Linked DNA regions of Homo sapiens: regions 2, 3, 4, 5 and 6 are each linked to region 1. Evidence: fine-mapped expression QTL. A gene starts in region 1. Each other region holds a variant in brackets. All regions are shown on one strand. Distances are between the middles of the regions.

Region 1 (5,110 bases):
TTTGCTAACTACAGTGGCTGTGTTATCGTTAAAGGAAATACTGGGAAGTGTTACGGTCACCAGCTTCAAGTCACTGTCATCTACCAATGAGATAGGGGCTACCAAGTAAAATGTAGCCCAGGGCCACATTCACAGATGGAAGTGTTCAGTTAAGCAAAAGTAAAGTTACATACTAAAAGCCCACATGAAGAAGGATTTGGAGATATTTCTTCCTGCTTTGCTTTGGCTGTAAAGTTCTGTACATGTATCAAACAGAGCATTTCAACAGGCTGGCTAATGTGTAGGAAGCTAGCTTTTCTTTGTGATATAATTTGTCATGTAAAATCATAAGCTATTTTACAAGTGTATTTCATTCACTGTATCTTAAAATTCATATGGTTTTATTTAAAGATAATTTCATCAAACAGCTGAATTCTAAAATCCTACCTTTTTTTCAAAATCATTTTTCAGAACTTTGCAATAACAGGAAGTAAAGAATCAGAAGGGTGTTAAAAAATTGACTTGGGGGGAAAAACATTTGGACATTTTGCTGGCTAGGTTTACGAAATATACACATCCAGCAAACATGTGAGTCCCTTTAGGGTACAGTGCAGTGAAGGGAGAAGTGGAAATACTCAAGGTTCTGGGGAAGGTCAAATGAAGGGTCCCTCACATTGGCTGAGGCCAACCTGGCTTCAGAGGTGTGCAGAGGCACCAGGCCGAGAACAGGGCTTTGCAGTGGTGAGGGCAAAACATGAACACAAGAAATACCCTAAGTTACTGACCTGGTTGTGCCTGGTGACAGATGGGACCAGCTCTTTTCTCCATTTGGTAATTTTGGAAAATTTGGCAGAGTTAATAAAGAAATCCCCTTGGTGCAAGATTGCTACAATAAGAATCTATTATAGATGGCAGATGTGAAGTTCACAGTCCTTTTTATTATCCTAACCTAGTAACATGACTAGAGGTAAAATTAAATATTGAGTTAGATGATTGTTTAATATTTTAAAACCAGAGGGAAGACATACAAATAGATTGAGAGCAGTTTCTTTCTAAAGATAATCAGAATATATCTCCTATATTTTAAACACTGCAGGAACAGTCAAAATTTTAAAATAAATGGTTTCCACATTTTTTTATCCCCATCTCTCCCCCTGACTATATAGTAAAATATTTTATTTGGCAACCACGTTTTCCTACTTTTAATCACACATCATCAGAGCTTTTCATCAGCCTAACTAGTCTTCCTACTCACTGAGTTGTGACGAAAGCCTGGTCTAGGCACTTTTACCACGGCCATGTTTTTGTTAAGATCCCTGCAGACTGTGAACTATGAAAACCAGCCCCTGGCCCCGCTTGTGGGTGCTGCAGAGCCGCGTGTGAACTGCTCCTAGGAAACCGCGTCTCTGGGCAGGGTGGCTCTCGGGCCGTGGATCCGCCTAAAAGCTTTTCTGCCAGTGACGCCCTTGGTCTCTGGATGTGTTCACGCCTCAGTGATTTTACTCTCTGGTTTCTTGTGTGTGCTTGAGATTCTTGAGAGAAAGCGTGCTGCAGATGAAAAATGCAGCCTACATGAAAAAGAGAAGGGGAAAGCCATTTTAAAATAACTTCCATGTAAGTTACTGTAATCAAAGTGCTGCTGCCTGTGTGTTCATAAAAAAATATGTGCAAGGGCCCGGAGCGGTGGCTCATGCCTGTAATCCCAGCACTTTGGGAGGCCGAGGTGGGCGGATCACTTGAGGTCAGGAGTTACCGAGACCATCCTGGCCAACAAGGTGAAACCCCGTCTCTACTTTAAAAAAACAAAAAAATTAGCCAGGGGTGGTGGCGCGTGCCTGTAGGTCCCAGCCACTCAGGAGGCTGAGGCAGAGGCTGCAGTGAGCCGAGATCGCGCCACTGCACTCCGGTCTGGGCGACAGAGCGAGACTGTCTCCAAAAAAATTAAGAATTCAAATGTGAACCCGGCTTTCATGGCGCCCCGGCCACGGAGAGCCTGGGGGAGTGGGATAAAAACGGTGCTGGGATGGGAGGGCGGCTTGTCCGCGAACTCCTCCCACCACGCCCGGACCAAAGCCGCCGGCGCCCCGCTTCCGGGGCCGCCCTAAACCGCGGCCGCCGCTCCCTGAGGGGCCGCCTGACCCGGCGGAAAGCCAGGCTGTGTGGCCGGAGGTCACCACCCCGACCCCGACTAGTCCCGCAGCGCCTGACCCCTTCGTGGGCGGCCCCGACCGCCGCGGCTCGAGGAGGGGCGGGGCTGGGGCGGCCGAGCTCTCGCGAGGTTTCGTCGGGGGCTGGCGGCTGCGGCTCGGCGGAGAGTGCGGCATGCGCTCGGAAAAGGAGGGGGCCGGAGGCCTTCGGGCGGCCGTTGCCGCGCGGGGCCCGAGCGGGAGGGAGAAGCTGTCGGCCCTAGAAGTGCAGTTCCACCGCGACTCGCAGCAGCAGGAGGCTGAGACGCCGCCAACTTCGTCCTCCGGTTGCGGGGGCGGTGCGGGCAAACCTCGCGAGGAGAAGAGGACGGCCCTGAGCAAGGTGGGGACGGGGGCGGGGCGCGCAAACCTCGCGAGGAGAGGACGGCCCTGAGTGGAGGGAGGGGAGGGAGGGGAGGGAGGGGCGGGGGCCGGGCCTCCCAGCGCGGTACGCGGTGCCTTTTGAGCTCCTTGTCCACGCTCCGCCCCGGTGGGAACGGCCGCGCGCTCCCCGCAGGTGGTCATCCGCCGCCTGCCTCCGGGCCTCACCAAGGAGCAGCTGGAGGAGCAGCTGCGCCCGCTGCCAGCACACGACTACTTCGAGTTCTTCGCCGCCGACCTGAGGTGAGGCCCGCCCCGAGGGGAGGAAGAGAGGGCGGAACCCAGAGCTCGGCGGCGGTGGCCGTCTCGTTGCCTTACGTTCCTTACCCTGATTTCTCCTATATGGGAGTCGTGTGAGCTTTTTGAATAAATACATTTCAGTAAAACGTGTCCGTTCCGTCAAAGAAAAATACCACCAACAAAGAAACACAGATGTGGTTTACATGAAAAATGCGGATGATTTTCAGACGGCTAACGCTTAGGAAAGCGGGTGCCTTTGAAAGGACCAGCGTTGCCCGCCCGGCGCCTCCCGGGCTTCCCTGCTCGTCCGCGGACGGGGCGCTGCGGGGCCGGGGGGCGCCGGCTCTTCCTGTGGCCTCCACGCTGGTGCCGCAGCCAGTGCGGTTTTAAATACCGGAGAAGGTCCCCAAGTCAGGAGAGTCTCTCGGCGCCACGGGTTCCTCTGGGAGTGCGCCCTGGCCTTGCCTTAGGGTTTCAGCCTCGGAGGACCGGTTCTGGGCAGTGGAGAAGGGACCTGAGTTCTGCCTTGTAAAGTTAACGTTTTGCGTTTGTTTTTGCTAAAGAATATCCAAGTTGTTACAATTAACTGAGATGATTTGGCACAAAAGTTTTATCTAAAGTAGTTTGTTGTGCCCAGAAAAGGAAAAAGAGGCTAAATTAATGGACTATTGTATTTTTCACTGACCATTTTCACTGTTATCTCTTATTTCAGTCTTTATCCTCATCTCTACTCAAGAGCATACATTAATTTTAGGAATCCTGATGACATCCTTCTTTTTAGAGATCGTTTTGATGGATATATCTTCCTTGACAGCAAAGGTTGGATTATTGGTTTTTAAAAATCTATTATAATCTGTAGGTATACTAATGAAGTATTGCTAGAATATTCGTGCTTTTTAAATTATTATTATTTTTTGAGACAGGGTCTTGCTCTGTTGCCCAGGCTGGAGTGCAGCAGCCGCAATCACGGCTCACTGCAGCCTCACACTGCGGCTCAAGCAATCCTCCAGCCTCCTAGGTAGCAGGGACCACAGGCGTGTGCCACCATGATCGGCTGATTTAAAAAAAAAATTGTGTAGAGACGGGGGTCTCACTGTGTTGCCCAGGCTGGTCTTGAACTCCTGGCTTCAAGTGATCCTCCCACCTCAGCCTCCCAAAGTGCTGGGATTACAGGCGTGAGCCACAGCATCCGGTCTATTTGTGCATTTTAATTAAAAAGTTCTCAGACTAAAATAAGTTTATAAATTTTGATTATGTTACTGTAATTATGTGCAGATATTAAAAATTGAAATTATTTAATTTTATTATTTAATCCAAAAAAATTCCAGAAATTCTGTGTAATAGTGACAGCCTATTTATGTATTATCATCAGAGAATGAAGGTTTTCATGAGTGAGTTTGTTGCATGAGAGAACTTGATCTTTTTAGGTTCTAAAGCTAAACTATTTTACCTGATAGGAATTTTCCAAAATGTACACTGACTTCTATCTTCCTAAACAGCATCCTTCATGACTGTACCATTTATGATAATGTCACCAGGAAGTCACTGCTGTTAAACAGCTTTGCCTGCGGAGACAGCAGTCTTCAACTCTACTCTCAATAGTTCCCTTATCAGTACTTCTAGGGTTCTGCTTTCATCTTTTTCCTTCTCTTCTCCTGTCAGGCTGTCTGCTGTTGTGTTCCTGGCTGTCAAGTTTGTATACCTTTCACAGCAAGTTGTTTTCTGCCCTCCCCTCCCCAGCCACCCTCTTCCGACTCCACGTGTTTTGACACTGATGAGTGTTTTCTTTTTCTCCAATGAGGGGTAAGGACTAGAAAGATTGTTAAAAAAATAAGCATTAGCCAAGCTAGTTCCTGTGACTAGAAGCAAATGTGATGCTTGAACTGACCTTTGTGTTCATTGCTCATTTATTCAGTAACTTACTGAGTTTCCCTTTTTCACTTAAAAAATATTGGTGGGCCGGGCACAGTGGCTCACACCTGTAATCCCAGCACTTTAGGAGGCCAAGGCGGGTGGATCACGAGGTCAGGAGTTCGAGACCGGCCTGAGCAACAACGTGAAACCCTGTCTCTACTAAAAATACAAAAATTAGCCAGGCATGGTGGCAGGCGCCTGTAGTCCCAGCTACTCGGAAGACTGAGACAGGAGAATTGCTTGAACCTGGGAGGCGGAGGTTGCAGTGAGCCGAGATCATGCCACTGCATCCCAGCCGGGGCGACGGAGCAAAAAAATATGTATGTGTATGTACGTGTATGTATATGTGTGTGTGTGTGTAAAATATGTGTAACATGGCCAGGTGTGATGGCTCACTCCTGTAATCCCAG
Region 2 (5,110 bases), 130 kb before region 1:
CAGCCCCCGAGGAGATCCCACAACCGACCCAGCCCCCACGGAGAACCCAGAACCGACCCAGCACCTGGGCAACATTCTGCCCCCGGCCTCCTCCACTTGCTGGGCATGCATCACCGTCATCTGCAGCCACTTTCCCCAATGCCAGAATCAGAAATTTTCAAAATGGTTGAATAGTATTTGGTTATTTTTTGATAGGATATAATGCTTTTGTTCCTTCTTTGACTTCACGTTTTCTTTGTTCTCTAAGCTAAATGCCAGCATTTAAACTGTATACCGAGACACACAATTGTGTGAATATTAGCTTGAGGCTCTCTTAAGACAGACTCAGATATCCAAAGGCTTTGAACTCACAGAATTTTGTAAAACTCGAAGCACATTCGCACTGCCCTTTGGAACCTGCCTTGTCTACAGAGCTAATAGGCAAGACCCAGCTCACCCAGGGGGCTCGGGGATCCCCAGCCCTGCGTGACTTTGCAACACCAGCTGAGATGCCTGGTTCCCAGTTAAGTTACTAGGATGAGTTACAGCACTATTTATTCAAAACTCTGAGAGGCCCGTGTTACTGCTAATTCCAATTTTAACTTTTCTTCCAGAATGGCAGGAAGCGATGAGGGCAGCTGAGGTTTCCAGAGCTCGTGTGTAGCAGGCGCCACGGCTAGTGCATCATGTGAAATTATGTTGCTTTTCTCAACTGTGAGGTGGGGACTCAACATGGTTTCCATCGCAGCCCATACAGGCTGCTGTGGTTGACCAAGCTTCCTTTGCTGGCAGGGCTGGGTGTGTTCTGCTGGCTGCAGCTCACCACCATGCTCAGAATGGCTCATAATCATTTGTTGTGTACTGTTTTTTCCAAAGACACGTCTCTGAGACTACGTCAGCTGCACCTGGACATGGTCACACGTCAACATCATACAGAGTGGTTTCTCAGGTAGCAGAAAGTGACAAATGAGACACGGTTATTCTTGTAAGGCAACTGTGAAATAACAGGGTATCACACAAATTTAGGTGGCCATTGTCTTCGTCTCAAATTTTCTCCTTAAGAAATTAAAAACAGGAGAGAAAAACAAGTTTTCGATTAAAAAACAAGGAGATCCTGGGATCTCCGTGGGGGCTGGGTGGATCCTGGATTCTCCTCGGAGGCTGGGTCGGTTCTGGGATCTCCGTGGGGGCTGAGTCGGTTCTGGGATCTCCTCGGGGGCTGGGTCGGTTCTGGGATCTCCTCGGGGGCTGGGTCGGTTCTGGGATCTCCACGGGGGCTGGGTCGGTTGTGGGTTCTCCTCGGGGGCTGGGTCGGTTCTGGGATCTCCTCGGGGGCTGGGTCGGTTCTGGGTTCTCCTCGGGGGCTGGGTCGGTTCTGGGTTCTCCTTGGGGCTTGAACAGTTGCTTCTTCTTACCTGTCTTCTCAACTCTGTGCCTTAAACCAACTTAACCATCAAAGAAAACAAATTGTATGTGCTTCCTACCCTGGGTCTTCTTAATTGTTTGTGGAATTCTGGAAAATTCACGAGCAAGGCTGTTCCCTCTAATTTAGTGGTTCAGAAACTGATTTTAGGCTTTCCATCTCCTTGACGTCGAAAACTTGCCAAACTTTAACTTCTGTGATCTTTGATTCACTGCTTAAAACAGGTCCTGGGCATCAGGTTTAGATCCACTGCCGAAATGGAAAATCCTGTTCTCAGACACAGCGGTGAGTGTGATGCTGCAGACAGTTCTCATTGGGATCACATTTTCTTCTCTGTTCAGGTGGAGGCATTTCATACATTTTTTACCAGGACCAGACAACCTTGGCAAATCATCTAGAAAGCACAGTAAATGTGAAAATGTGATTAAATAAACAGGTGTTGGATTTCAGAATACTGTTTTATTTTTTTTCCTCAAAAGACATCTGCTTACCAATCTCAGTGTTACTGGGGCTGAAGGCCATGCTCTTTCCAATGATGGGACTACACTCAAGTGCTAATTTATTACAATTACAAGTTTCCCTTCACCACTGCTGATGGCATAATTTGACCACAAGTGTTTTGCAAATATATCACACCTGGTATTCCAGGACCCACTTCAACCACTGGCTTGACTCAGAATTTTCCAACAGGGACAATTAGCATGTGCCACCTGCTGGAAACACTAGCCACACCTGAAGTGAAAGGAGAATCCTGGAAAGTCTTCCCCTGGAGCTACCAGACTCCCCACTCTCGAGTCTGGTGGACACGGCACTGTCAGGACCCCTCCCCTCGGCAGAGAGTGGTGGTCGGCTGCAGGTCTGCCCACCGTCTGACGGGATTCCAGCTCTGCCCCAGTGCTTGGCACCTGGGTGCTTCTGTTAAACCCAGTCCCTCCCAGACCCTTCCCAGATTAAACCTGGACCCAGGACCCCGCCCTTAGCTGCATTATCACTGCCCAGCAGACCTGACCCTAACCCTAACCGCCAGAGATCCTGTTAAGCAGGTCT[A/G]TGGTGGGGCCCAGAATTCACACTTCATCCACTTCCCAAGTGATGCTTTACTGTTGGTCCCAGAATAGGGTGATAGCCCCTCAGTCTGCCAGGGGCAAAGGAGGGTTCCTGTGACCTGGGACTTTCAGCGTTGAAGCTGGAGCAGCCCTAGGGCAAAGTGGGACGGTCACCTCACCTGGGGACCTCACCTGGGGACCTCACCTGGGGATCACACCTGGGGACCTCACCTGGGGACCACACTTTGAGAACCACTTACCTGGATCCTTTATTAATCCTACGGTGGAGAAAAACTGCTGACATTAATTGTGCTGAACTTTGTATTTTTATTGCAGACTTCTTCCTTCGAGATGTATGTGCACAAGAGAAGATAACAAATGAGTCCCCAACACCTAATCTGGAATTTTTATATTAAGTTTTCTCTCTCTTAGAGAAGAATTTTCAAAGAGTAGTCATTCAAAAAGCAAAACACACAAACAAAACCCTAAAACTTTGAGAGACCATTTTATGCCTGGAGCCAAAGATGAATTTTATAGGCTTTGCTTCTTTAGGTCTTGGCTCCAAATTCTACACAGTGCTGTGTTCCTTTCCACCATCAACATACAGAACCAATTCCCCTTCTGGATTGTATGCACTGAAGAACTTTAGCTTTATTTATTAACTTTTTAAAGATCTCTCAATTGGTTACATAACAAACCACCACCAGCCTAGTGGTGTAAAGGAAGCAGCATCATTTCCCGAAATTCTGAGGGTTGGCTGGAAGGTTCTCGGGGCTGAGACTCCTGGGCTGGGCTGGGGTGGAAGAGGGCCTCACTCACACGTGCAAGGCCTTGGCAGAGACATGGCCTCCGAGGCACCTGAGGTCTCTGTCATTCACTCCCTCATTCTCAGGAGGCCAACTCGGCCTGCCCACTTGGCAGCAGAAGGTTCCCACCGCAACAGCGGGGACGTCCAATGCCTTTCAAGCACTTCCCAAGTTTCTGCTGGTGTCAGGGCTGCTTTTGTCCCCTTGGTCAAGCTGCACCGTGTGTCCAGGCCCAGCGGTCACAGGGGAAGGGCCATGCAGGCTCGGTGTATGGAGGCAAGTCTGGGCACCATCACAAACTCACCATTTCAACAAAACACTCATTGTTTCTGAACTATCTTTAAAAACAACTTTTAAGAAATAAGAAAAGCTATTTCCAGAGCACTCACCAGTGCCACGTGCACACGGATCATCTAATTCTAGGGGGGCAACTGCACGGTTTGCCCCCGACCGTCCAGTGTTAGTGTCCAAGGAAGCCCCTCAGTTCCGAGGTGAACCAACAGAACAGATCACCCTGTGAGGTATGAAGTGTTGTCCTCTGCATTCGACAGATGAGGAGGTTACAGCTGCGAGACTGTAGGCGGTTGCCCGGGCGCTCTTCCAAGTAGGTAGCAGGGCCGAGTGAATGAGCCTAGGCACCGCCCGGTATTGCTGCAACAGCCAGGCGGCGCTTTGACTTCTGGGTCAGTGTCACTGCCTACCTGAATCACTCACTTCCTGTAAAATACTTGATTCCAAATTACTTTGGTCTGTATTGAAAAATAAAATTCAAGTTTACCTTTAAAGACAAAGATTTGCCATATTTAAGGATATTTTAGAGAACGTGCTACTGACTCTGAAGAAGAGGCATAAAACCGCCTTGAGGAACGGCATCGTCTGTGCTGAAGCAGGCAGCGCCCAGCTGACGACTGTCAATGCAGCCCTAGCAAACACGGCCACGCTGCCCTCCATCCAGGGTCCTGTCCAGTGCTGTGCTAAGCACTTCACGTGGTGACAGCTAGCTGCACACCAGGCACGGTCAGGTGCTTAGCGTTTATTAAGTCGTTCAATTCTTCTGTAACCCCATGAAATGGATGCTATTGCTAGAGCTGTTTTCTACAGAGAATTTAAGGATTTTGCCTAAGGAGATGTCACCAGCAAGTAGCAGACCATGGTTTGAACCTGTCCCCCAGTCCCAAGTCTACACATAACTGTTGTCCCACGGGTGATAGGTGTGACAGTCCTAGGCTCCAGCTCTTTCCCCGGCGCCACAGTGCCTGCTGTGCTTGGAGACACCACCCTCACCTGACTGGGAGAGCTCCACTCAAGGACCCGCACAAAAATAATCCCAGCTTCCGTGGTTTCCTCACACCATTCCCCGCTCACAGTTTACCTCCCTAGGAACCCAACACTGTTTTCCTGTAGCTCATCACTTCACAAATGTATTGCCTTTTGTTAAAATCGTGAATAAGCCTCTGGTCTGACTGCCTCTGCGGGGTTTTTGTCTCATTTCGTGAAGCCGCCACATGCATATGAAGTAACGCTTTTTCTCCTGTTAATCTACTTTTGCCAGTTCAATTTGCAGGACTCCAGTCACTAAAAAACATAAGTGAGTGAAGGAAAAGTTTTTTTCCTCACCACCTGTTTGTTGGAAAGCAAGTAATGGCCCACCTGGTATTCTTTTGGTCAAGACACAACGGGGAAATGGGGCTCCGGTCAGGCCCCTCAGGTTGGGCCTAATTGGAGCAGAATCGGAGGGGCCTGGGCTTCTTGCTGCCAGTGGCAAATGTCCAGTCAGGAAGTCACACGGGCAGCAGCAATGCCGGCAAGGGACGCTTGTAGCAGGAACGGGGCAGCCTCCCTTACTCAAACAAGACGCG
Region 3 (5,000 bases), 41 kb before region 1:
AAGTGGAGCTGCTGCGAGCTCCTCGGACGCCCAGCAGTTATTCACACTCAGGGCCTGAAGTGGAGCTGCTGCGAGCTCCTCGGACGCCCAGCAGTTATTCACACTCAGGGCCTGAAGTGGAGCTGCTGCGATCTCCTCGGACGCCCAGCAGTTATTCACACTCAGTGCCTGAAGTGGAGCTGCTGCGATCTCCTTGGACCCCCAGCAGTTATTCACACTCAGTGCTTGAAGAGCTACCCAGTGCTCCACTCCTCTGCCTGACCACTTACTCGCTGCCTCACTTACTCGCTCTCCTGCAGATGTTTACTTCTCCACCTGGTTGATGCTTTCTGTTGCCCCGTTTCGTCATGCTTACCTGTTGTGCTTAGTTCACATCTCCCCTACTGTAACCTCCTGGGGCAGGGCCTTACTGCTTTTGAATCCTTGGTGCCTAGTAAACAGTAGGTTCATAATAAATATGGTTTAACAGGACTGGATTTTTTTTTTAACTGCAAGAGTAAAAGGAGAAATTATGAAATTAGTTCTATTTTATGCTTATGGCTTTCTTTGAAAGTGAAGATACATATTATTTTGACCACTACTTAAACAAATTAATTTCTTTCCTAGTTGTATGAAGCATGTCGTTACCTTGCAGCTAGGTGCCATGTAAGTATGCTCATAATTTCATTTTTATTTGGTTGAATAAAATGAGTGTTATGCATCTCTTAAATATGTGTGAGAATTTTAGTGATGGAGCTTAGCAGGTTAGTAAAGTATTTCATGAGGAAGTGTTCCTTTCCTTAGTCATGTTTGCTATAAAATACTGATTCTTCGTTTACCACATGCTGACATGCATGAAGAAAATTCTACTTTAGACATTTCACATTTAAATAATGGGCATAGTATATGTTATCCTTTAAAAATTCGGATCATGTGTTTCGTGTTAGAAGTCGTGAGTGATGAGCGGCACTTCTGTTTTCCACGTAGTATGCTGCAAAAGAGCACCAGCAGGCCCTTGATGTTCTTGACATGGAAGAGCCCATCAATAAAAGATTATTTGAAAAATACTTGAAGGACGAAAGTGGCTTCAAAGATCCTTCCAGCGACTGGGAAATGTCACAGTCTTCAGTAAGTAGTACTGTGAGCACAGCTCAGTAACGGCGGCGAGAATTGCCCTCATTACGTGGCAGAAACACATTATCTTCTTTTACTTATTACTATATTAAAACAATTGTGGTTGCCAATTTATTTAATTTGCCCACCAAAACCAAAAAAGATTCTGAGACATTTCTGAGCCCTTAGTTGCAAGCTGTAATTGTATCCGCAGATGCCTGCATCCAAAATAGGCTGGCTTGAAACTTCCTTCTCATATTTGATGCCTTAAGCTACTCCCTAAAAGTGGAATAATTTTTCTTCTCCTTTCTGTGTTTCAGCAGTGTTTTGGACCTACACCAAGAAACTTTGATTAGCGTACATTGTTTCTTTCCAGGAAATGGTTTTGTGTTCTGTTTGCTTCAAAGTACATTGCTATGTAATTGTGTATATTTCAGTTTGTATACTTCATATCTCCATGAAATTGCACATTCCTTGCTGGCAGACATCATATAGTAACTTATTAAGTGACATTTACAGATCACTAATCTGGATTTAAAAAAAAAAATAAAAACTTATTGAGGTATAATTTATATGCCATGCAGTTCCCCCATTTAAACTGTATGGTTTGATTCCTTTTAGTGTATTCACAGAGCTTTGCAAACCTCACCATGGTCAATTTTAGAATATTTTTATTATTCAGAAAGAATCCCTGTAAGCCTTACCTGACCTACCAATTTCTCTTTCTTCCCACATCTTTTTTTTTTAAATTAAGACAGGGTCTTTGCTTTGTTGTCCAGGCTGGAGTGCAGTGGCACAATCACAGCTCACTGCAGCCTCAACCTCCCAAGCTCAAGTGATTCTCCCACCTCAGCCTCCCGAGTAGCTGGGACTACAGGCGCCCGCCACCATGCCCGGCTAATTTTTTGCTATTTTAGTAGAGACGGGGTTTCACCATGTTAGCCAGGATGGTCTCGATCTCCTGACCTCGTGGTTTGCCCACCTCGGCCTCCCAAAGTGCTGGGATTACAGGTGTGAGCCACTGTGCCCGGCACAGTTGGCTAAATTTTTTAAAAAATGTTTTGTAGAGACAGGGTCTCACTGTGTTGCCCAGGATGGTCTCAAACTCCTGGGCTCAAGTGATCCTCCTGCCTTAGTTTCCCAAAGTGTTGGGATTACAGTCATGAGCCACTGCACCTGGCCCATTTATTTATATTTTTGGTAGAAGTTTATTACTTGACTTTTCACCTTAGATAGTTATTTTTAAGCATAAAAGAATATTACACATTCTAGGTTTTTGTTTTTGTTTTTTTTTCTGGCCACTCATTAATGTATGTGTTGGGAAGCAGATTCTTCTGTTAAGAAATGCATTTATGAAAGTGTGTGGTACAGTCATTATTTTGGGACCTCTTATCCATTAACTTATTTGCTATGAAATGTGTGATTTATTTGCAACGCATTATTATTTATTTTGTGAAATTACATTTTTAAAAAACAACTCCTAGGATATTGCTTAGTTCGAAGACTCTCATAATTCATTATTTTTTCTAAAATTTTACTTTATGAATCTTCTTCATATCCTTAATGATACTAGCTGCCTGTTGCTGGATCATCTTTAAATTCAGTTATGTGTTCGAGGTCCAGAGTCTAGAATGTGCATCAGATTTCCACATCTTCGTGTTTATGGTAGTCGTGAGATGGCTGTTGAACGCCTTACTATGTGCTAGCACCACAGAGATGGTAGCATCTCTAGCCCTCACAGACTTCTATAAGTTAGATAGTAAAGAGTTCTATAAGTTAGATAGTGTTTTTATCTTTTTACAGATGAGGATAGGAAATGGAGGCCAAGAGAGGTTCAATCACTTGTC[C/T]GAGGTTACAAGTAATTGGCAGAGCTGGGGTTTGAACTCAGGTCTGTGCTGCCTCAGCAGGCCATTGTGCTGACTGCTGTGACCACTCTGCTGCATTGCTGCCAGTTTCTGCTCATTAAGATCCTTTTGAGGGGTGTCTGCCTATCACACTGTCAATCTTGGAGTTTTATACACATGCACACACACTCTGCCATCTCTAAATCATTGCACTGTTTTGGACAAAACAGGTAATGAACCTAGTAGCCGTGACATGTACTTTTGTTATAAAGATGTGTTGGAACAGAGCAGTTGAAGCCCAGGGAAGGTGAATTGAAGAAGCTTTGCTGTGCATTTTTTGTGTGTTTTTATTTATGCCTTGACAGTTGTGATTGACTAAATCCTTTTAAATGCAATAAAAACTTCTCAGCATTCAAATACACAATTCTCTATCAAAAGTTAAGTTTAAGGGCCAGGCATGGTTGCTCATGCCTGTAATCTCAGCACTTCGGGAGGCCAAAGTGGGAGGATCACTTGAGGCCAGGAGTTTGAGAGCAGCCTAGGCAACATAGCAAGATTGTCTGTACAAAAAATTTAAAAAATTAACTGTTTGTGGTATTGTGCACCTGTAATCCTAGCTACTCAGGAGGCTGAGGCAGGAGGGTCATTTGAGATCATAGGAGTTCAAGGCTGCAGTGAGCTATGATCGCACCACTGAACTCCAGCCTGGGAGACAGAGTGAGACTCTGCCTCTAAGGAGAAAAAAAAAAAGTTAAGTTTAAAAGTACTGACTTAATATGTGACTCATCATTTTTCCAACAGATAAAGAGTTCTATCTGTCTTCTACGCGGGAAAATCTATGATGCTCTAGATAACCGAACCCTGGCTACCTACAGCTACAAAGAAGCTTTGAAGCTTGATGTCTACTGTTTTGAAGCGTTCGATCTTTTAACATCACATCACATGCTGACAGCACAAGAAGGTTTGGAAACTCAGGCTTTTTTGTTTTATGTTTAGCAAAATTAATATTGTTTGGATTTTTTGCCTCTGAAATCTTCTAAGTCAACAACAGGCCACATACAGGTTTAAATAGACCTACTCACTTTCTTAATGTCTTCAAATGTAAAGCACGTTGCAGAATGCAGTATTGTACGGTGCCTTGTGCTGTCCGAATCTAGGGATTGTGATAGGAAGAGGCCATCTTTTTGAGAAGTGATTGAGATAGTATAAACCAGGATTTCAGTATCTCATGCAGTGATTCTCAACCGTGTTGCTCTTTACATCCTTGGGAAGACAGAGAAACATCCATGTCCAGTTCCCAACTCCAGAGCAGATGCTTTAAAGCTCCCAGGTGATCCTAATGTACCACAGGCACTGAGAATCAGTCCAAGTATGTTGGCAGTGGTGTGAGGTGCGTCAACAAGGGAAACAGAAAATAGAGTGGTTGGATTAATGGGATTCTAACATATTTTAGCCTAGTGCAGTGGTTCTCAACCAACCAGAGTGATTTTGCCGCCCCCTGCCCCGGGAACAGTTGGCAATGTCTGGAGATGTTGTTTGTCACAGCTTAGGGGCAGGGAGGGAGGTTGAGAGGTTGCTGCTGGTATCTAGTGGTTAGTGGCCAGAGGTCCTGCTTAGCACCTGCAGTACACAGGCTCCCCTGTTCCCAGCAGAGCAAGATCCACGCAGTCAGGAGTGCGGAGGCTGGTGGTTCTTAGGTGACAAGAGCCACCTGGGGACCTGCCTCAGCCCTGAAAGAGTAGCCTCCACCCACCAGATGATTCCCGTCTTCAGGCCTGGAGCCACTGTGTCAGCTTCTGTTGCACATTTTGATCTTATGTTCTCTTTTGAGTTTGATTTACTTAGACCAAGAACTGTAGAATCATATTTTTAGTTGTTGGCTTTTTCCCCTCTATAAATATTATGAGGATATTCTTTTTTTTCTCACCATTTTTAAGAAAAAGAACTTCTTGAATCACTACCCCTTAGCAAGCTGTGTAATGAAGAACAGGAATTGCTGCGTTTTCTATTTGAGAACAAATTGAAAAAAGTAAGTAAAACCAAAGAGTTAGCACTTGCTTTATG
Region 4 (5,000 bases), 86 kb before region 1:
TATAACAAAACACTATAAGCTGGTGATGTACAAACAATAAAAACTTATTTCTCGCAGTGCTGGAGGCTGGGAAGTCCAAGGTCAAGGAGTTGGCAAATGTGTTTGTAGAGACAAAGTTTCACCATGTTGGCCAGGCTGCTCTTGAACTCCTGACCTCAGATGATCCATCTGCCTCGGCCTCCCAGAGTGCTGGGATTACAGGTGTGAACCACTGCACCTTGCCAAAGTTAATACAATAGACTGAAACATGTCAAATATGTTTTAACATTTTACTTCCTAATGTCTTTTAAAAAAACAAAACAAAACACCTCACTAGTCACCTTTGGAAGGTACTAAGAACCAACTCACTATTTTGAAATTGGCAAATAGAGAAAACCTAGTAAGTTTCTTGCCAGTGCAAAGCTTTTCTTTACAGAAGTATTCCAGCAAACAAATACAGATTGAATGATGGAATTAGAATATCTCCACTTTTCAAACCATAATGAAGTAATGGATCTAGGATCATTCACTGCTGCTAACATCACAAGGTAGAGACAAGCAAAAATTTGTACCTGCCAATAAAATGTCAAGATACCACCTGTGGTTTATCAAGGAAAAAGAAAAATGAACCTGAATTTCTAACTGCCAATATACAGAAAATGTCAGGCATGTGATCAGCAAAATCCAGACTCAGAAACTCTACAGGACAAATTCTCTGGATTTCTCATAGCAAATTGCAGGGAGAAAAACAGGGAAATTGTACATTAGACGTAAAAGATGTACGACCAGTGGCAATATAGGCCTTTTTACGTGAGTCCTGAGTCAAACATGGAAGGGAGGAGGGTGGAAGGGAGATCGGGTCTCCATTTTTTATACTAATAAGCACTCTGTTGGGGGCACTCATTTCCCCCCCAAGAGCATTCTTTGATGATTTTGCCAAAACCAATCTTTACAATGATGGTTACAAAATGGTGATTTTTCGACCACACCACTGCTTCTACGTTTACCAACTGGCATTTTGCTGTAAGGAAACACTCCCTTCCCCCCGTACCTAATGTTTAAATTAAACAAGAAGCAACATCAGATAACATTAAGGGGTTCAAAAGGCCTTGGTCAACAAGTTCTGCCACCAGGCAAGCTAGTGTGACATTTTTAATAACAGTTATGTTCTCAAATCTTTATCTGGAGCTTGAAGAAACTTGCTTCTAGAAAGCTCTGTGTAGGCATCTCAGATTAAACATAGTTAACTCAGAATTTCCTGTCCATGCCCCAAACCCACTCACCACCTTCTCTGTCTTAGTGTCACCTGGTATGAAAACTGAAAGCAGAGGGCATTCTTCATGCCTTCCTTTCCCTTCACCCCCGCCCCACACATGTACACCGCACCTGGGCCTGGATCTTGCCACCTCCCCGCCCAGTGGCCCCACAGCCCTGGGCATGCTGCAGGCCCAGGTCTCCTCCCTGGATGACCACAGGAGCCTTGGCATTGGCCTCCCTGCCTTCCTTCAGGCTTCTCTTCGTTCACACGTAGTGACAGAGGAGCCTGTAAAAAGTGACCATGTGACCATGTCACTCCTCTGCCTCTATTTTCAATGGTTCCCTTTCCTTTGGGGACCAAGTTGCAGCTCCTAAGTGTGCTCTGTGAACACGTCTCCATCTGCCCCTTTCTCCACCTCCTGACATCTCGCTGCATCTTCTCCACCCTCTGTGCTGTCACCACATTGCACGTGGGTTCAGTCCCCAGCCTGGCTATCCTTCTCCATGTGCTGGGGGTTTCTTCCTCCACTGGGGAGTTTCCCAATGCTGTCGCCTTCAGGTTATCCGTGAGCAGGTCCCGTAGTTAACTATCTATAAAGGAATGTCTAGAATATGCGGGGATTCCTTTTTATTGCAAGCAGTGATACATACAGGTCTCATGCATTTAACCTGTCACATTTTAAATATAAATGTTTCCCTTATTTGTACCTTTTCTAAGTGGAAACTTTAGAGATTGTTGTACAGCTAATGCCTAAGGTGCTCATCCTGAAATACTGGTGGAGAGCTTGGAAATTAAAGTGAGGTGGATGCAGGGACATAACTCACTGTATAAAAGGCCTCCTGGCAGCTGGGTGCAGTGGCTCACGCCTGTAATCCCAGCACTTTGGGAGGCCGAGGCAGGTGGATCACAAGGTCAGAAAATCGAGACCATCCTGGCTAATGCGTTGAAACCCTGTCTCTACTAAAAATTACAAAAAAAAAAAAAAAAACTAGCTGGGCATGGTGGCGGGCGCCTGTAGTCCCAGCTACTCGGGAGGCTGAGGCAGGAGAATGGCATGAACCC[G/A]GCAGACGGAGCTTGCAGTGAGCCAAGATTGCGCCACTATGCTCCAGCCTGGGCAACAGAGCGAGACTCAAAAAAAAAAAAAAAAAAAAGCCTCTTGGCAATAGAGTGCAGACTAGAAATGTCACCAGGTGTTGGCATTTAACAAATTCTCACCCTGCACCCACTTAATTCTGTCTTTTAAAAGGGCAATAGAGGCTCATTTCTGAGGGTGCCTGGCTTCCTCCAGGGGATACTCGGATTCCAAATCTAAGCACGAGCCTCTTTCAGAACTTCAGGCCGTGTGCTGACATGGAATCCCTGGTGCCACGAAAGACCCCAGAGCAGCACAATCTGAGCTCACTCTGTTTCCAATACTGCGCCCAGGTAACGCTGCCTCCTCATGCCACAGGTCCAGAGCGCCCAGCCGCTGGTAGACACCCGCGCCCCGCTGACGTTCCGCCATCTCCACCTGAAACTCAAGAGGCTGAAGGTACACTTTCATTTCTACCTTACTTAATGTAATAGCTAACTAGAAAATGCCAGCTTAAAAGCCCAGGAAAATAGAAAAGGCAGGGTTAGTAAGGAATAAACTCACCGAAGACAAAATGCAGTCTAGGTGATTAATTAGCCCCGTCTGTCCGTGAGGGAGCTGGTTGATAATTGGAGCAGAAATCTTTCCCCAGTCGTTGTGCTGACTATAAACCAAAAATTATCTGAGACAGGTCTCAATCAATTTAGAAGTTTATTTTGCCAAGTTTAAGGATCTGCCCGTGACACAGCCCCAGGAAGTCCTTGAAAACATGTTCCCAAGGTGGTCAAGATACAGCTTGGTTTTATACATTTTAGGGAGACTTGAGACGTCAATCAATACGTGTAAGGTGTACATTGGTTTCGTCCAGAAAGGCAGGACAACTTGGAGTGGGAGCAGGGGTACTTCCAGGTCACAGGTGGATTCAAAGATTTCCTGACTGCCAATTGGTTGAAAGAATTTATCTAAAGACCTGGAATCAATAGAAGGGAGTGTCTAGGTTAAGACAAGGGGTTGTGGAGACCGAAATTCTTATCATGCAGATGAAGCCTCCAGGTAGCAGGCTTCAGGGGAAATAGACTGTAAATATTGCTCATCAGAGTTAAAAAGGTGCCAGACTAAGTAAATTCTCTCCTGGATCAGGAAAAAGACCTGGAAAGGGAAGGAGATTCTCTACAGAATGTAGATTTTCCCCACAAGAGACAGCTTTGCAGGGCCATTTTGAAATATGTCAAATAAATATATTTTGGGGTAAAATAGTTATATATTTTTTAAACACCTGCTATCTATCATGTTGGTATCTTATTGCTACAAAGAGTCTTTTTGTCAGTTTTAAGGTCTCTGTTTTAACCTTAATGCTGGTCAGTTGTGCCTAAATTCCATTGGGAGCAGGGCATAATGAGGCATGTCCAACCCCACTTCCCATCATGGCCTGAACTAGTTTGTCAGGTTAACTTAGGAATGCCCTTGGCCAAGAGGAGGGGTCTGTTCAGTTGGCTGGGAGTTGTGGAGGGGGCTTAGAATTTTATTTGTGGTTTACATGACCCATCATGTCTTGGGGGGAAGGGAAGTGGATTCACAGTGACAATTTATTCAGTGCAGTTCCAGAATAACTAGCATCATTCCCTTACAGTAAACCATTTCTTAACCACCTCAGAATGTTGGGTTTTGGGTTTGTTTGTTTTTGAGATAGAGTCTCACTGTGTCGCCCAGGCTGGAGTCCAGTGATACAACTTCAGCTCACTGCAGCCTCTGCCTCCCAGGTGCAAGTGATTCTCCTGCCTCAGCCTGCCGAGTAGCTGGGATTACAGGCGCACCCACCATCAAGCCCTGCTAATTTTCGTGTTTTTAGTAGTGATGGGGTTTCACCATGTTGGCCAGGCTGGTCTCAAACTCCTGACTTCAGGTGATCTGCCCGCCTCGGCCTCCTGAAATGCTGGGATTACAGGTGTTGTTTATTTCTTTTTTCTTTTCTTTTTTTATTTTGTTTTTTAGACGGAGTCTCGCTCTGTTGCCTGGCTGGTGTGCAGTGGCACGATCTCGGCTCACTGCAACCTCCGCCTCCCGGGTTCAAGCGATTCCCCTGCCTCAGCCTCTCCAGTACCTGGGACTACAGGCCCGCACCACCACGCCCGGCTAATTTTTTGTATTTTAGTAGACACAGGGTTTCACCATGTTGGCCAGGATGGTCTGATCTCCTGACCTCGTGAAGTTTACCTCATTTGGTGATTGAGAATTGCATGGTTATCTCGAAGTAATGCCTCCAGGACAAAAGGCTGTGGGCTTTATATGAGCCTGTTAAGCAGTGGTGTTAAAATGGGCTGAACTGAAGCCGAGTAACCAGTCTCCAGCATATCTGCAGACCGACCACTTGGAAGCCTAAAACAAGAGGCAGATTCTTTTCCTCTGGGCTCAAATATTCTCTTCTTATAACTGAATAAAATATCTCTATCTTTCTTAAAATATAAAAAAGATTTCCTCATTAGCACCACCGCCACATGTTACTTTTGGAGGGTCACCTAATTTTACAAGATAGTGCCTCGCCTCAGTGTTACTCTCACTTACTCCACCCAATGCGTTCCAATCCATGGGCAAAGCAGCTGGTGGTCCCCGCTGAGGGGTGACGGCGCGTCCCCGTGTTTACGGTCCCCGCTGAGGCGTGACAGTGGGTCCCCGTGCGTACGGTCCCCGCTG
Region 5 (5,110 bases), 29 kb after region 1:
CAGTTATCTATAATCAGTATTACTTCTAATGGTCTACCATCTCATAATTGTTTCAATTTTATTGAAAGCTAACGATTGGGAATCACTTAACTTTTAAAAGGATTTATTATTCAATCACTAAAATCATCCAGTTTCTCTGTTTCTGAGAAGTAAATATAAAAGGTTTCCCAGGACTTACCAGCTAACTATTAATTACACCTGTTGCTTTTCCACTCTTGGAGAGAAAGAGCTCAATCTGACATATTCAGAAAGGTTTGGGGGATTAGCAGTGATTTCAGCACATCTTTGTCAGTGCAATATTTTTATAAAGTGTTCAATGCATATTTGCCAAAGCCTTGGATTGCAGATTTAATTCATCCAATTTCTGGAAAATGTAGTAAAGTCAAGATTAAAATTATATAGAGCAAATAGTCTTTCTCATTACCTAATTTAAATAATACAATATAATGTTTAGCTACATGTATGAGTTATTGGTGAGGCCAGCCGTGTGATAATGGGAGTTCTATTTCTTCAGTAAATATGTGTATGAATATGTAAAACTCTAGCATGGGGCTTTTGGGAATATTGAAAAGATTTTTTAAATTATAATTTTGTTTTACAACATGACCAAGTGTTTTACATGTATTTAAGAAAACATTAAAGTATATGCTGCTGAAAACTAATTGCATTTATCATTTAGTTTATAACTTTTCTAACTAATGGAAGGTGGAAATAAAATTTTTTTTTTGAGACAGGGTCTTACTCTGTTGCCCAGGCTGGAGTGCAGTGGCACAGTCTCGGCTCACTGCAACCTCCACCTCCCAGGTTCGAATGATCCTCCCGCCTCAGCCTCCTGAGCAGCTGGGACTACAGGCGTGCGCCACCACGCCTGGCTAAATTTTTTGTATTTTTAGTAGAGACGGGGTTTCCCCATGTTGGCCAGGCTGGTCTTGAACTCCTGACCTTAGGTGATAACACCCACCTTGGCCTCCCAAAGTGCTGGGATTAACAGGCGTGAGCCACTGTGCCTGGCCAGAAATAAAATATTTAATTGGATAAAGAATGACTGCAACTGGGAAACATTTGGTAGAAACAGGTTTTAACTATCTTAATGATTACTGCACACTTTATTAGGATGAAACCACATAAAAACTTACCCTTAGGTTTTATAGGATGTATTTTGGAAACAGCCCCATTAGCAAATTGCTTAAACTTTGATATATGTTCCTTGTTCATTCTGTGTCTGAGTCATGTTTATGGAGCTGGGGTCTTGCTGTGTTGCCCAGGCTGGAGGCCATTGACAATTTACGGGTGTGATCACAGTGCACTGCAGCCGCAAACTCCTGGCCTCAAGCAGTCCTCCCACCTCAGCCTCTCAAGTGCATGTTTTTGCCTTTCTGAAAATCATACTTTAAGCCCATCCCCTTACCTGTTTCCCCAAACTGTCTCTCAAATCTTTTATTCTTATTGGGTCCTGATACTCATCCTATGAAGTAAGTATTCTCTATTAATGGTCAGAGTTCTTGTTACTGTAATTAAATCAGTATAAAATAATGGCATCTAACATTGATTCTGTTCAGTGTGCTAGCACTAAGTGCTCTGAACACTTCATGCTGTCTTATGCCAAAACAAGCTTATAAGGTGGGTACTATCGTTCCACTGCATGCAAACATATGAGAAAGTAGCCTTGCCCAAGTTCACATTCAAGCATGTGCACGCGCACACAGTAAGTTACAGAGGCAAATTCTAACATAGGTTGGTCTGACTTCACAGCCAAAGCTCTCAGCGACTGTGCCTGCCATTCCCAGAACAGGAGAAAGTATGTTTTCAACCAGCATTAAAGCTGTAGGTCTCTAGTGTTGCCAGTGCCTTACCTCAGCTTTAGTGATGGCAGGTGGTAGAAGTCCTTGCTCGGAGAGGGAGCCTGGCTGCACACCTGGTACACAATGCGGGGCAGGAGAGACCATGGGCTCTCTCTGCAGTTCTGCAACCACAAGCAGTATCCAGGGCCAGGCTGGTTTCTATGCTCACCACTCCTGCTTTTTTTTTTCTTCAACCAGCAGAGCAGGTGACCATAGTTCTTGGGCAGCCTGCTTGAAACAAAGTGCCCTCTGCTGCTCTTTTCATGAAGAGTGTAGCAGGATTGATTGAGGCTGGCTTTGCACTTACACGGTAAACTGGCCATATGAGAACTTAGCTGCTCTGCCGGCCAGCACCAGGCTCCCAGTTGCCTTTCACTCGCTCACTGGCGCTCAACTAGCATTGATTGAGTGCCTGCAATGCAGCAGTCAGTGCCCA[TC/T]TGCCACCCCTGGCAGCTGTGTGGACCTAGACTGCCCTTCAGCAAAGTCTGCTGCTCTGCCTGAGAGGAAAGGAAGAGCCCCATGCCCACCAGCAAAGGCTTCTGGGGCCTGGGCATCCTCTCCTCCCTCCAAAACTGGGGCTAGTGAATGGTTAAAAAAAAAAATTAAGAAAATATTAATGGACTTGATTCTAATTTTTATATTTGATTTTTATTTTTCAGTCCTATTTAAAAAAATGTCTAAAACTCGGAAATAAGGCAAAAAAGAGTGATTGCATGGCTGTGTCATGTCTGACAAGCTCCGATTATTTAACAGTTGACCCACATTTGTGCCCACACTGTGACATCACATGTTTCCTTACGGATTTTTGCCCAGTAGAGATGTGAGTGATTTCTATAACATGGCCTCAAAGGTGGCAGTTGTGCTTCCCTGTAGGATCCTAACCACTTTTGTTTCTAACTGGCCATTTGACTCCACTTTTTCTAGTGGCTGCACGTACTCAGCTTTATGAACCTTCTGAACTAGCTTCATCCTCCTCTGGATTCCCTCATGAATGAGTTAAATAAATCCTCTGAGATTGAGACCGTCCTGGCCAACATGGTGAAACCCTATCTCTACCAAAAATACAAAAATTAGCTGGGCGTGGTGGCAAGTGCCTGTAGTCCCAGCTACTCATGAGGCTGAGGCAGGAGAATCACTTGAACCCGGGAGGTGGAGGTTGCAGTGAGTAGAGATCGCACCACTGCACTCCAGCCTGCCGACAGAGCAAGACTCCGTCTCAAAAAAAAATACAAAATAAAATAAATCCTCTGATATGTGTTCACTTTATATTCGTGTGAGTCATGTGTTTAACTTTTGAGAACTATACTTTGACATTCCCCAAAGCCCAGCAACAGAGCTAGATACTCAGGAGGAATTCCATTTTATCATACTTCCCATTAAGTAACTTATTTTAGTTCCCATTATTTTGCATTATTATAAATTAAGTAGAAATAGCAGAATAATTTGTCCTTTTTTATTATAAAGTAGCTAAGTTGATTATATTAGATCTAAATTATAAGCTGGACTGCTTTTATTATTTCTCTTACAGGAAGCACTTAATAATTTATTTCTAATTTTTATTATGTTCCTTGTAATACATATTAATGCAGCAATTTGAATGGAAAAATTAAGTCTGACTTTCTGACAGAAAGCCAGTCTGATTTTGGCTGCTTCATTTGACAACATGATTCTGTGTAGGTTTTGAATATGTGCAGATACTCAGCACTGTTATTCTTTATACACAGAAGACAAATGACAAAGTCCAGTGCCATCTCAGCTAATGAGTTTGCAGCTCCTCAAAGGCTGTCAGGCTGCCACTTTCTACTGCAATTGTAGTTCACCTGCCTCTACCCATTCCCTGATTCAAGTCTGGTCCCTGGAACATAGTATAGGTTGAGAAAACATCAAAATAAACTGTTGAGAAGTATATGTTCAATAGATCCTTAAGTGAAATTTTGAAAGTCCATAAGGGTCTGGTTTTAGTACAGGATTTTATGAGAGTTATTTCTGCTTTCTTTGGTTACTTTAAAGTTTAGTGCAATATACTGGGAACCTTTCAAAAGGCCAAATTGGGAGTTTATTTGCATTATTCATCTTGAACTATTTAATATTCTATAACTACAATAGCTTTTTTAACATGATTTCAATTCAGAATAATAGCAGAGGGTGTTTTGGTTTTTGTTATTTCGTCACCAAGAGTTGCCTTCTGCTAGAGTTTTGTTCAGTGTTCAATTGGAATAGGTCTCTTGGGATCATCAACTCATTCTGACACTTCAGGAAAAAACAACTGAAGCAGCCATTCAAATTAGGTCCTGCAGCCACAACGAACCTGTTTCATATTAAGAGTCAGGATCTCAAAAAGTTCTCAATCAGTAAATCTTTGCTATTCAGAGAAAATAAAAGATCCTCTCATTTCTGCATTTAACATTTACAGTTTACAAACTGTTTTCATTGGCTCTTTTAAAAGCTTGTAACTAGGTGGATACTTTTTAAAGAAATCTATTAAATTTAATGAATCAATTTTGCTGCAAAAACAAAACTTAGAAAAATCCTAAAATATTTAATATTGATATTTGAATCCTAGAAATCAGAATCATTCCGGAAATTAACACAGGATCCTAAATTTTGCATGAAAGGGAGGTAGAGCCAGGCGCTGTGGCTCACGCCTGTAATCCCAGCACTTTGGGAGGCTGAGACGGGCGGATCACGAGGTCAGGAGATCGAGACCATCCTGGCTAACACGGTGAAACCCCGTCTCTACTAAAAAAATACAAAAAAATTAGCCGGGCGTGGTGGCGGGAGCCTGTAGTCCCAGCTACTCGGGAGACTGAGGCAGGAGAATGGCATGAACCCGGGAGGCGGAGCTTGCAGTAAGCCGAGATGGCGCCACTGCACTCTAGCCTGGGCGACAGAGCGAGACTCTGTCTCAAAAAAAAAAAAAAAAAAAAAAGAAAAGAAAAGAAAAGAAAAAAATGTAAACACAATATAGCAACTTTTGTGATACAGCAAAAGCAATGCTAAAGGGGGAGTTTATAGCTATAAATACATCAAAAACCAAGAAAATCTCAAATTAACAACCTAACTTTACAACTTAATGAACTATAAAAAGAAAAACTAAATCCAAAGCTGGCAAAAAGAAGGAAATAATAAAGATTAAAGCCAAGATAAATGAAATAGAAAATAGAAAACGATAGAGAAAATCAATGAAACCAAAAATTGGTTCTTTGAAAATGTCAAAGCATTATTCACAATATCTTGAATAGGGAAGCAAGCCAAGTGTCCATCAACAG
Region 6 (5,110 bases), 120 kb before region 1:
AATGCTTGCAGTTTCTGCACATTGATTTTGTATCCTGAGACTTTGATGAAGTTGCTTATCAGCTTAAGGAGATTTGGGGCTGAGATGATGGGGTTTTCTAGATATAGGATCATATCATCTGCAGAGACAGTCTGACTTGCTCTCTTCCTATTTGAATAACCTTTATTTCTTTCTCTTGCCTGATTGCCCTGGGCAGAACTTCCAATACTGTGTTGAATAGGAGTGGTGCGAGAGGGCATCCTTGTCTTGTGCCAGTTTTCAAGGGAACGATTCCAGCTTTTGCCCATTCAGTATGTTATTGGCTGTGGGTTTGTCATAAATGGCTTTTATTCTTTTGAGGTATGTTCCATCAATACCTAGCTTATTGAGAGTTTTTAACATGAAAGGATGTTGAATTTTACCAAAGGCCTTTTGGTAGCAGGTCATCTTTACAAATGTTGTATCTACTCCTGACTCATTTTCAAAGCAGGACTCACCGTGACCCCCCCTCATCCCGCAATTGTTCCACTGCCTCGTCATTCGTCCCCAGCTTGTGAGAACGCTCACGTTGGCCCTCCGTGCCCCTCCTGATTGTCACCCACTGGGTGAATCAGTTTCCTGAGCAAAGGTTCGCCTCCAATGAGGTCAACGCACATGTGGCAGGGACCCAGTATGGTTTGTTCGGAAACCCGTTTCATGCGGAGCCAGCAGAAGCCACGTTAAACGCACGCGTTCTTCCATCCCTCTGCTCACCGGAAGCGAGCTTCCCAAGGCGGGCACGGCGCCGCCCCCCCAGTCACGCGGCTTCCGCTTCCGGTCGTGCCCTCTCGCCTCTAACTAGAGAACGCCTCGCGGTGTGAGTGAAACTCTGGCGGCCTCGCTAACACGCCAAACCTCTGTCCTCAGAATACGAAGGGCAAAGTGTGTCCCACTCACGCGCAGGCTTCCCCGCGGCGGCCACAGCGGCGGGGGGCGGGGGTCGTGCTCACCGTCGTCCAGTTCACCGGCATGTTTTCAATCAGCCATCACGAGCGAAGTGCTGCTTCGTGTCCACCAGGGAAAGCTTCAGGGAGCACGTTATTGGCACTCAAGATGCCAGCCATGGGCTGCCTGGAACGACGGTTTTTATCATTTATGTGAGTCCTGGGACATTTTCTTCCAACAGACCTAAGTATGTATGACACCAGCATATTACACGAAGCCGAGAGGGGGCTGCTCTGGGTGAGCGTGGAGGAACACACGACCCCTCCCACGCTCACGTGCCCACAACCTCCAGGACAGCCCAGCCTGGGTGAACTGCAACTTCTTTAGCTCAAGGGACATCTGCTTTTCCCCAGAGGGGCCCCTGGTGCAGAAGCAAGTTGGGGAGTGTGCAGAGCCGGGAAGAAGCAAAGCGAGGGTATGGGTGGGAGGGAGTGGGAATCCTTGGATTTGGCAGAGAACAAGTAAATTTTCGGAAATCATAGTCAGCGTGGTCTCCACAAAGATGAGAGGGCAGGAACTCGATTGGAAGGGGGCCAGTGAAGCTGCTGTCAGGAAGCTCTCACAGGGCAGTAAACAGCTCCTGGCACCCGGAATAGGAGGAGGAAGTCGAGAACCCACAGCCGCCCTGCCCAGCCTGGCTCCTCCTCACCCGCCCAGGCTGCTGTGCTCCTCACGGGAGGAAAACCCGCCTGCGTCCAGCTACCTCCAGGAAAGCAACAACTGCCCGTCCTCGACTAAAGGCCAAACCTTTTAACATTTTTGTCCTTGACCACGGCATCAGCTGTGCTGTCTACAGAAGGAACTATATTATTCCCACTTAAATAGCTCGGTGTTTCGTCAAGAGAGTGCAAACACGAGGGCTTCGGTAGAGGGAGGAGACACTGGCTCAGGAACCAGAGCTCACGGTTCCTGCTGTCTCTGCCCCTTGACCTCGGTGTGAGGCGGCTGCGACTGGGTCTCTGCTGTGTAAATATTGTGCCTGAGGGCCATTTTGACAATGACCGTTTCTACTTTAAAAACAAAGCAGACCAAGGGAGTCTCTGGTCCAGGGATAAGGTGCCTGCAGTGCTTTTCCGACACCTAAATCTCTGCTTTGTCCTGAGAGAAACAAG[C/T]GTCACGAACTTAGCTCACTGTTGGTGAAGTGACGGCCGCCAGGGAAGAGTGCAGGGATCTCAGGAGAGACGCTCGGGTCCTTTTTCAAAACCAGTGTGATGCACGATATGTGACTACTCGCCAGAGTCTCGGGAGAGTGTGACGAGCGATGGGTGGCTACTCACCAGAGCGACTGGATTTCTGTCTGAGGCTACTGCATATGCTGGGTCTTAGCAAGCAACGGCCATGCGGCCATCAAGGCACAACAGAGAGCTCTTCTTCTAGGAAGTTCGAGGCATTAAAAATTTCCTCCACTGGGAGCATGAGCATAAATATCTTCCATATTGTTCCCAGTTTTTCTGAAGGCGAAAGAAAATAAAGAAGGCCAGTCAATTAGAAATCTGAATTTTTCTATTAAAGAAGGCAGGGGTTAGCCGGGCACAGTGGCTCACGCCTGTAATCCCAGCACTTTGGAAGGCCAAGGTGGGTGGATCACTTGAGGTCAGGAGTTTGAGACTATCCTGGCTAACATGGTGAAACCCTGTCTCTACTAAAAATACAAAAATTAGCTGGGCGTGATGGCAGGCGCCTGTAATCCCAGCTACTCGGGAGGCTGAGGCAGGAGAACTGCTTGAACCCGGGAGGCAGAGGTTGCAGTGAGTGGAGATCGCGCCACTGCACTCCAGCCTGGGTGACAGAGTGAGACCCCATCTCAAAATAAATAAATAAATAAAAATAAAGAAGGCGGGGGTTCCTGTCTCTATTTTTCCAGGAGAACAAATATTACCAATGTACAAAACTAGGGGGAGACAGGAGTGACTTTACCTCACTGCCAACGCCTCCAACACAGTCTCCATTCACAGGTCAAGACAGAAAAGGAGTTTCCTGGAAGACTGCAGAGTCTGCCACAGACCCAGGGCAGCTGGACTTCCTGCAGATCTAAAGCCAGGGCTGGAAAAGCCACCCAGAGCCCATCAGGCCTCCTGGACCTGCTTCTTGGTCCCTCTTCTCAAAGTCCTCTCCCCTGAAGGCTATTTCCCCTGCCTCTCCCTCATCTCATCTCCCACAGTCTCCTAGTGTCTCTGCCAGCCACATGCCGAGAGAACCAGCTGCGCCCCAACACTTCCAGTCTCTAGAGAGATCATTTCCGTGATCCATTCAGCTGGGCCCAGGCCGAGGGCAGGGGCAGGAGTGGTCATGTGTTAAGAACAGGGCAGACTGGGTGGGTTGTGGGTCGTGGGGAGCTGGGCAGACACCCTGCAGGGCGTCCACAACACCCGTTCCTAATGGGAATGTAACTGAAAGATAGCGGAGATGAGCTTTTCCCAGAGTTTGGGAAAAGCATAAGGAGTGAGGAAGGCTGCACCCTCACCAGCCTTCCCCAGTGACGACGGAGCTGTACACCCTCAAGCAGATGCTGTCAACTCCTGGGAGACACAGTTTCTTTACTGAAAACACGAGCCTAGACTAGGACTGGACGGTTCTTGCTTTGTTTTTTTGTTTCTTTCTACACCATTCACATTCCATTGGTAGAAGTGCTCCTTCCATACCCGGCAGGGGGACCGAGGGGGCCATGTGGCACTGAGCGGGCTGCCGGGACCAAGGGGGCTCATCAGCCCCTTAGGTGGGGTGGGGGCATGCACCGTTTGAGCACCACCGCCGGACTCTGCACCCAGCGAGGGACCCTCTCCTCCCTGCCTCTGACCACCACTGTGAATTACAACTCCAAGCAGTGCTTCCCTGGCCACGCAGGAGGAGTTACAGGGGTTGAGGAAGCGTGGCCTAAGGAGAGGCAGATGGGGGAAGGATGTGTGCTCTGCCGTCTTCAATACTGAGGGGCCTCGTGTGCAGAAGGACGTCGTTTCTTCAGTGTGACTTCAATGGGCAGAATTAGAATAAAAAGGTAAAGTTTATTATGGAAGAAGGTAAATCTCAGCTCATCTCAACCACTTTCTCTAAGTTAGAGTTGAGTTGACCCCCGATTCAAAGGTGCTGCTTCGGGAAGGCACAGTGCATGTCCCTGTGCTGTCTATGGCAAGAACTTGATTCAAGGAGGATGGAAGCCAGAGGCACCCAGCTCCTCCACCATTCAGCCCGAGGCCCAGGAGCACCGTCCTTTCCCAGTGCTTCTACCTCTGGTCTTATTCGCCTCTTGTGACACAGCTATGATGTGACGTCCTGCATTTTACTGATGTGGACGCTGAGGTCCAAAGACAAGCAGCCTCCCAGGGACACACGGAGCTGGAGTCCCCCGAGTCTCTGGGCTCCTGGCTGGGGTTCCTGCCGCCTGCCCTGCTGCCAGCACAAGCGTCCTCGTCGCTGTCTGGGGTGCACGCTGGGGCATGTGCTTAGTTCGTACTTCCCATTCATGGAAGAGATGATGAGCCCCAGTAAGAAAATAATTTGAAAATAATTTACTGGTGGGTGCACGCTAAGTTCCCACAAGGAAACAGACATGCAGTTCGGTGCTGAGAGCTCAGTGACCATCCTGGGGACAAGTGGTGTGGGAGCGATCACACTGCACACCAGGCCACCTGCCCCCCAGCTTCCCAGCTCACCCTCACGCCTGTCTTCCTCACCCCAGCCCACCCACACGGCCCCTTCACCATGCACAGACCCTGGCAAAGCGCAGAGTGCCTTCACTCGAACTTTCTCAGGACTACAGCCTGCCCGGCCAGTCGGCCCTTCCTAGCCTGCTTGGAAGGTGAAGAAAGTGGTCTCCATGTCACCCGCATAAAAGGCGACGACTATCTGCTCGGATGTCATAGGCTGACCTTCCCAAAACAATCTCCCTCAGAACCAACCTAGGTGCTCAGTGTGAACTCTCACCCATTAGATTGACAGAGTGGTTCTCGACTGGGGTTGATTTTTGCTGCCATCTCTCCCCAGGGGACAGCAACGCCTGTAAACTCTTTGAGCTGTCACACTGGATGTGAGGCACACCTACAGCCATAGAATCCTAGAAGCCAGGGGTGCCACCCAGATCCCACAGCGCAAAGGACATCTCCCCACAGCACAGAATTGTTTGACCCAAAATATCGCTTTTCATCAGTGG

The links. PIP is the estimated chance that this variant, and not a neighbour inherited with it, causes the effect.
Region 2: its variant is fine-mapped to the expression of UPF3A in stomach (GTEx, PIP 0.95).
Region 3: its variant is fine-mapped to the expression of UPF3A in whole blood (TOPMed, PIP above 0.99).
Region 4: its variant is fine-mapped to the expression of UPF3A in lymphoblastoid cells (TwinsUK, PIP 0.91).
Region 5: its variant is fine-mapped to the expression of UPF3A in monocytes after LPS (Fairfax 2014, PIP 0.91).
Region 6: its variant is fine-mapped to the expression of UPF3A in whole blood (INTERVAL, PIP above 0.99). The same link has a PIP of 0.9 or more in lung.

The regions. Positions count from the first base shown.
Region 1 is chr13:114,279,339-114,284,448 of GRCh38, forward strand. It overlaps UPF3A (UPF3A regulator of nonsense mediated mRNA decay), which reads left to right and starts at 2,263. Exons shown (of 10, transcript NM_023011.4): 1 at 2,263-2,508; 2 at 2,683-2,789; 3 at 3,499-3,605. The coding sequence starts at 2,302. It overlaps LOC105370384 (a long non-coding RNA gene), which reads right to left and starts at 1,731. Exons shown (of 4, transcript XR_007063887.1): 1 at 765-1,731. RefSeq lists enhancers at 1,491-1,790, 2,244-2,931 and silencers at 2,011-2,280, 2,511-2,690, 3,071-3,280, 4,898-5,094.
Region 2 is chr13:114,147,928-114,153,037 of GRCh38, forward strand. No RefSeq gene overlaps it. Among named protein-coding and RNA genes, the nearest start is that of RASA3, 18 kb to the left of the region's middle. RefSeq lists enhancers at 393-452, 783-962, 2,870-3,370, 3,371-3,871. The variant A/G (reference allele first, on the strand shown) is at 2,450.
Region 3 is chr13:114,238,384-114,243,383 of GRCh38, forward strand. It overlaps CDC16 (cell division cycle 16), which reads left to right. Exons shown (of 18, transcript NM_001078645.3): 4 at 607-645; 5 at 967-1,107; 6 at 3,738-3,897; 7 at 4,874-4,965. Among named protein-coding and RNA genes, the nearest start is that of MIR548AR, 3.6 kb to the right of the region's middle. The variant C/T (reference allele first, on the strand shown) is at 2,940.
Region 4 is chr13:114,193,709-114,198,708 of GRCh38, forward strand. CFAP97D2 (CFAP97 domain containing 2) reads left to right here. Exons shown (of 4, transcript NM_001395229.1): 2 at 2,688-2,768. Among named protein-coding and RNA genes, the nearest start is that of CFAP97D2, 17 kb to the left of the region's middle. The variant G/A (reference allele first, on the strand shown) is at 2,300.
Region 5 is chr13:114,308,006-114,313,115 of GRCh38, forward strand. No RefSeq gene overlaps it. Among named protein-coding and RNA genes, the nearest start is that of CHAMP1, 3.9 kb to the right of the region's middle. RefSeq lists a silencer at 5,089-5,110. The variant TC/T (reference allele first, on the strand shown) is at 2,278.
Region 6 is chr13:114,160,553-114,165,662 of GRCh38, forward strand. No RefSeq gene overlaps it. Among named protein-coding and RNA genes, the nearest start is that of CFAP97D2, 16 kb to the right of the region's middle. RefSeq lists an enhancer at 1,200-2,100. The variant C/T (reference allele first, on the strand shown) is at 2,076.